Linked DNA regions of Homo sapiens. The protein of the gene in region 1 purifies or fractionates together with the protein of each later gene. This does not show direct contact. Each region holds a gene or a part of one and is shown on either strand. Other genes may lie near its edges. The genes, in order: CYP4V2 and NEMF.

Region 1 (3,025 bases):
GTATTTGATGCGTATTTGATGGGTATTTAGCATCCCCTGCCTTGATCCACGTGTTCTTCTTTGAAGGGTATTTGATGGGTATTTAGCATCCAGTACCTTGATCCACGTGTTCTTCTTTGAAGGGTATTTGATGGGTATTTAGCATCCAGTACCTTGATCCAAGTGTTCTTCTTTGATGGGCATTTGATGGGTATTTAGCATCCCCTGCCTTGATCCACATGTTCTTCTTTGAAGGGTATTTGATGCGTATTTAGCATCTAGTACCTTGATCCACGTGTTCTTTGATGGGTATTTGATGGGTATTTAGCATCCAGTACCTTGATCCACATGTTCTTCTTTGAAGGGTATTTGATGGGTATTTAGCATCCCCTGCCTTGGTCCACGTGTTTTTCTTTGAAGGGTATTTGATGGGTATTTAGCATCCAGTACCTTGATCCACATGTTCTTCTTTGATGGGCATTTGATGGGTATTTAGCATCCCCTGCCTTGATCCACGTGTTCTTCTTTGTTGGGTATTTGATGGGTATTTAGCATGCCATGCCTTGATCCACCTGTTCTTTTTAGATGTCTGCACCCCCAGCCCCCACTGCTCTTTCAGGTCATCTTATCTACTTGCTTTCATCAGGGAAGTCTGACCGTCCCGCTACAGTAGAAGACCTGAAGAAACTTCGGTATCTGGAATGTGTTATTAAGGAGACCCTTCGCCTTTTTCCTTCTGTTCCTTTATTTGCCCGTAGTGTTAGTGAAGATTGTGAAGTGGGTAAGTATGCTATACCTAAAGTAGAAGGGAGAGGGAAACTTTCTAATGTCTACCTTGCTCCGGTCTCATAATGTATTGACTACTTCTTGACAGCAGGTTACAGAGTTCTAAAAGGCACTGAAGCCGTCATCATTCCCTATGCATTGCACAGAGATCCGAGATACTTCCCCAACCCCGAGGAGTTCCAGCCTGAGCGGTTCTTCCCCGAGAATGCACAAGGGCGCCATCCATATGCCTACGTGCCCTTCTCTGCTGGCCCCAGGAACTGTATAGGTTTGTATCCATCTGAATTGGTTTGACCTTTCAGGCCCACTTGATGGTGGGTTTCTCACAGTGATTTCTTTGAGATGTGATGTGACATTGCCCATATGCAACAGCCTTAAAAAAAAAATAGGTGGTTTCTTTTTTCCCTCACTGTGCTTTGTAGTTTTAAAATATTACGGTCAAAAGGTATATTAGTATATTCGCCTGCATGGGCTTCCATAGCAAAATACCACAGACTGGGTGGCTTAAACAGCAGAAATTTATTTTCTCACAGTTCTGGAGGCTGGAAGTTCAAGAACAAGGTGTTGGCAGGGCTGGTTTCTCCTGAGGCCTCTCTCCGTGGCTTGTAGATGCCATTTTCTCCTTATGTCTTCACTTGGTCTTTCCTCTGTGTGGGTCTGTGTCCTGATCTTCTCTCCAGTCAGACTACACTAGGGCCTACCCCAATGACCTCACTTATACTTACTGACCTCTTTCGATTACCTGTCTCCAAATACAGTCATATTCTAAGGTATGGGGGGGGCTTAGAATTTGGAGAGAGACACAATTACCCATAACATAAAACATAATTAGCTTCATGGTAGAGTTTCAAAATGTTGTAGAGTTTTAATTACAGTAGAATATAACTTATTGTGGTAAAAACTTTATTAATGATTACTTATGGTTAACCTAATTTTTGTGTTTATTGCTTTTAAGAATTTCATTTTGCAAATCAAAACAGCAAATGCTTGCCATATGGCCAGCTAGTACTTAAGCAAAATGAATGCACATCACCACCCTGCATTATAAACCCTTTTGGTTTTAGTATCTCTAGCATTTTGTCATTTATGTAAATGCAGACATCGGTAAAATGAGGCCAGAGTGAAACGGGTGAATCTGAAGCTTTTTTGGTGAATCCATAGTAAATGAAAGACCCACTAAGACATAATCTAGGGTAGTGAGTCTCAAGCTTGAAGGAGCTCAGGATTTATCTGGATCAGCTGGAGTACAAATTCTCTGATCCTCCCCAGCTATAGATGTGCAAGGTGGGATCAGGGAGGGAAACTCAAGACTCTTCATCTTTAACAGGTGTTCCAAGCCATTCTGGTTCTCCTTCCACCTACTGCGAAAATGTAAAGTGGCTCGCTTCCTATGACAGGACCTCTTGTTTCTCACATTTGGGGTAAATCTATAACTAAAGCGATGGTATCTACATTAATTTGAAGGTCAAAAGTTTGCTGTGATGGAAGAAAAGACCATTCTTTCGTGCATCCTGAGGCACTTTTGGATAGAATCCAACCAGAAAAGAGAAGAGCTTGGTCTAGAAGGACAGTTGATTCTTCGTCCAAGTAATGGCATCTGGATCAAGTTGAAGAGGAGAAATGCAGATGAACGCTAACTATATTATTGGGTTGTGCCTTTATCATGAGAAAGGTCTTTATTTTAAGAGATCCTTGTCATTTACAATTTACAGATCATGAGTTCAATATGCTTGAATCCCCTAGACCTAATTTTTCCTTGATCCCACTGATCTTGACATCAAGTCTAACAAAGAAAAAGTTTTGAGTTTTGTATTTTCTTTTTTCTTTTTTCTTTATTTTTTTTTTTTGAAACCGTGTCTCACTCTGTCGCCCAGGCTGGAGGAGTGCAGTGGTGTGATCTCAGCTCACTGCAACCTCCACCTCCCAGGTTCAAGCAATTCTTCTGCCTCAGCCTCCCAAGTAGCTGGGATTACAGGTGCCTGCCACCATGCCTGGCTAATTTTTTTGTATTTTTAGTAGAAACAGGGTGTCACCATGTTGGCCAGACTGGTCTCAAACTCCTGACCTCAAGTGATCCACCTGCCTCAGCCTCCCAAAGTGCTGGGATTATAGTCGTGAGCCACCACGCCTGGCCAGAGTTTTTTATTTTTATCACCACCATAGATGTTACAGTTGGCTGTGGTCACAAAAGTAGTTAATTGTGTCAGCACCCAAATAAACATCTAACAGGTTTCTCAACAGAGGAATCCACAGTCCAATT
Region 2 (3,827 bases), on another chromosome or scaffold:
TTTAGTTTGCTTAGTCTTTCCCACCCTACAGTAGTTGTTCCCTTCCCTTCCGCCCTTCCCTTGCTTCTACTTGCTTCCTGAGACCTGCTATTAAAAAAAAAAAAAAAATCGGCCAGGCGCGGTGGCTCACACCTGTAATCCAGCACTTTGGGAGGCCAAGGCGGGTGGATCGCGAGGTCAGAAGATCGAGACAATCCTGCCTAACACGGTGAAACCCCATCTCTACTAAAAATACAAAAACAAAATTAGCCGGGCGTGGTGGTGGGTGCCTGTAGTCCCAGCTACTCGGGAGGCTAAGGCAGGAGAATAGCATGAATCTGGGAGGCAGAGCTTGCAGTGAGCCGAGATCGCAGCCACTGCGCTCCAGCCTGGGCCACAGAGCGAGACTCCGTCTCAAAAAAAACAAAAAACAAAAAATCAACTATTCTGCCTTACATAAAACTTTCCTAATTTCAGGTATTCATATTTATTCCTGACAATATCACCCTAGAACTAGTCTATGTAATACACTGAAATCATTATTGTACATGTTTATGTAATAAAAGGTCTTATTAGAGCTAGTCCTCAAATAACATCATTTCATTCAACATCATTGTGTTATAACTTTGATGAGAACAAAATTGATTCCTGGCCACGGCTACCATCTGTGCAGAGTTTACATGTTCTCCCCATGTCTTTGTGGGTTTTCACCAGGTACTCAGGTTTTCTCTCACATCCCAAAATGCGCATGTCAGGTTAACTGGTGTGTGTAAATTATCCCAGCATGAATGAGTGCAGGTATGTGTGCCCTGCAACAGAATGACATCCTGTTCTAGGTTGGTTCTGGCCTTTTGCCCTGACCTGCCAGGATAGGCTCTAGCCACCAATGACCCTTAACTGGAATAAGCGGTTGAAAAACGAATGAATGAATGAATGAATGACTTAATAAAAATGATTGTCAAAAATTCATAAACTATAGTCATACAAATGTATAACAATCAACAATGTAGTATGAAAGTGTTTAATGAATGTGCCACATTTTTGTTTTTGAACCTCATGGTAGTAGGAGGTACTCTATAGTTTTCACTTTGCAAATAATCCTTGATTTAACCCACTACCACTACAACTGCCATCACTCATTGATTTACCAAAAATTGGGTAAATAATTATCTTGCTCGCTTTCATTCATCTTTCTTAAATATACATACAGTTTACATTTATTTTAACGTTTAATATTAGAAGAGTTTTCAGTCTTTATTTAGAAGCTTGGTGATGGTTTTGTGACCAAAAATATGCCAGAGGAACTTAACTCTTGTTTATATCAATTAGCCCATGGCAAAACTGGTTTCATTACACACTGTTTCCCTTAAGTCCAAGTTTCCAAGAACCTATTGAAAATGTTAAGTGGGCCAGGCGCGGTGGCTTATGCCTATAATCCCAGCACTTTCGGAGGCCAAAGCGGGTGATCACGAGGTCAGAAGATCGAGACTATCCTGGCTAACACGGTGAAACCCCGTCTCTACTAAAAATACAAAAAATTAGCCGGGCATGGTGGTGGGCGCCTCTAGTCCCAGCTACTCGGGAGGCTGAGGCAGGAGAACGGCGTGAACCCGGGAGGTGGGGCTTGCAGTGAGCCGAGATCATGCCACTGCACTCCAGCCTGGGCGACAGAGCGAGACTCCATCTCAAAAAAAAAGAAAATGTTAAGTGAAGGCCGGGCACAATGGCTCATGTCTGTAATCCCAGCACTTTGGGCAGCCAAGGTGGGAGGATCACTTGAGCCCAGGGGTTTAAGACCAGCCTGGGCAACATGATGAAACCCTGTCTCTACAAAAACTATAAAAATTTTTGTAGTGGCACACGCCTGTAGTCCCAGCTACTCAGGAGGCTGAAGCAGGAGACTGCCTGAGCCTGGGAGTTTGAGGCTGCAGTGAGCCATGACTGCGCCATAGCACTCTAGCCTGGGCAACAAAGCGAGACCCTGTTTCAAAAAAAAAAAAAAAAAAAAAAAAAAGGAAAATGTTAAGTGAGGACTTACTCTACTAGGTCTATTTCATTGATTATAGTTATAGATTAGGGCCCTTAAACAGAAAAATGTATTAGAGCTTAATATTAAAAACTAAACATTTGTGCTAAATCTTGGTAAATTTAATGAAGGAAGTCTTTAAACAGCTAAGTAATCTGTGGTAGCTGAGCTATCAATTAAAAAAAAAAGAAAAACATGCTTTTTAGTTAATTAACACAGATGTGTTTACCTTCTTTCCTTGGCTGACAAATGTCTCCGGCTCTGTGATTTACTGTCACTCTATTAAAACAAAAAAACAGGCAAATGCAAATATCACTATTAACTTTTTTGAAAAGTAGAAAATTATTCACTGAGAATCGGATGTTCTTCATAAAACTGAAAATAGCTTACAGAATTAGAAGATTCCTCTTTTGAAGCCAATTTCTGGATGGACCTATGAAAATAAACACAAGGGAGTCTCTACTAGCCTGTAAAAGACATGCATTTACAAAGTCCCAAAACATTCCCATATCATACTCTTAAGTACTGGCAATCCAACAAATTTTCAAATTTGGTGAAGTGAGAAAAACATACAACCAAATTGCTCCTCTCTCCACACTTCCATATACATTTTTAAATAGGTGACGTGTATTGAAAACTTACTGTGTGTCAGGCACTGCCAGATGGTATACACGCATGAAACCTTCACCAAATCCCTATGAAAGGGATACCATTCTGTTTTCACCAAGAAGGAAACTGAAGCTTAAGCACAAAGTAATTTTCCCAAGGACGCACCCTAAGACCCAATACTGGTCTGTCTGACTCCTAGACTGTTCTGAATTACCCCTAAGTTAATTATGCATTTATAACTATGGACTATTCACCTGATGATCTGCAAAACATTATATAGACTAAAACACATTTCTTTGATGGAATTGCCTTTGTTATGTTTTTAGCATTTATAACCATTTACTTGTTTCTATTTGGATCTAGTTTGGCCACTCTATATGCACTGTATTTTTCTACCCTGGTCCTGGGAATTTCTTTGCAGAGAGACCCAATCAAATGTTGAAAAAGTATTAAGACAATGGAGTGTAAAAGTACTGATGTCAATCTTGGTATTATCTTTGTAAGGATTACCTCATCATCATTCTCAGCTTACACAATAATATGTAAAATTTTATTTTTTAATTACCTTTGGGGTTGAAGGTGAGACAAGTCAATGGTAGTATCAGGATAATTTAATGTCTCTTCCCCTTCATCCTTCATTTCACCAACAGAATCCTGATCTTTTCTAACCTCTTCATATTCTCCTTCGTCTTCAGAGCTTTCTTCCTGAATGAGCTCCTCATTTAGTTCATCTCTGCCACTCTGAAGAGTGATATCCTCTTGGTCAACCTGAGTCATGAGTTCTACTTCCACAGGAGTTTCATGTTCTTCTTTATCCTCATCACTGCTCGTGTCACCTCCATCTGTAGAATTATCATAAGGAAAGTCAGTGTGGGACTACCAACCAAGCCAGGTGATTTCCTAAAAATGTCATAAAAATATTCCACTGTTTCTCCCATATTTCTCCAAAAAATCAACAGAAAAGTGTCTGATCATTCCCAAAGGGTACTCTTAGACAAAAGAATAACCTGTATCATGAATAGGTTGAACTAAATGATCTCCAAGATCCTTTACCACAATAAATTTCTTGGACATTGCTACCCTTTCAACAATGAAAACCACAACTCTGCCTTAGTTGGGTATTTCCAAAAACCAAGACAGCAAAATTAGTTGCATAACTTTTGCTGCTTTTATTATAATTTGCACATAAAAACTTAAATACGTATTATATAAC

What was found.
Region 2: the proteins of CYP4V2 (region 1) and NEMF purify together in Homo sapiens (affinity purification with mass spectrometry; one large-scale study listed by BioGRID and IntAct). This does not show direct contact.

Annotation. Positions count from the first base shown.
Region 1 is NC_000004.12:186,208,240-186,211,264, forward strand, and holds part of CYP4V2 (cytochrome P450 4V2), read left to right. Parts: intron 1-625; coding exon 626-760; intron 761-853; coding exon 854-1,033; intron 1,034-2,229; coding exon 2,230-2,402; 3' UTR 2,403-3,025. UniProt on the Homo sapiens protein: A cytochrome P450 monooxygenase involved in fatty acid metabolism in the eye.
Region 2 is NC_000014.9:49,797,241-49,801,067, forward strand, and holds part of NEMF (ribosome quality control complex subunit NEMF), read right to left. Parts: intron 3,457-3,827; coding exon 3,180-3,456; intron 2,439-3,179; coding exon 2,396-2,438; intron 2,285-2,395; coding exon 2,235-2,284; intron 1-2,234. UniProt on the Homo sapiens protein: Key component of the ribosome quality control complex (RQC), a ribosome-associated complex that mediates the extraction of incompletely synthesized nascent chains from stalled ribosomes as well as their ubiquitin-mediated proteasomal degradation.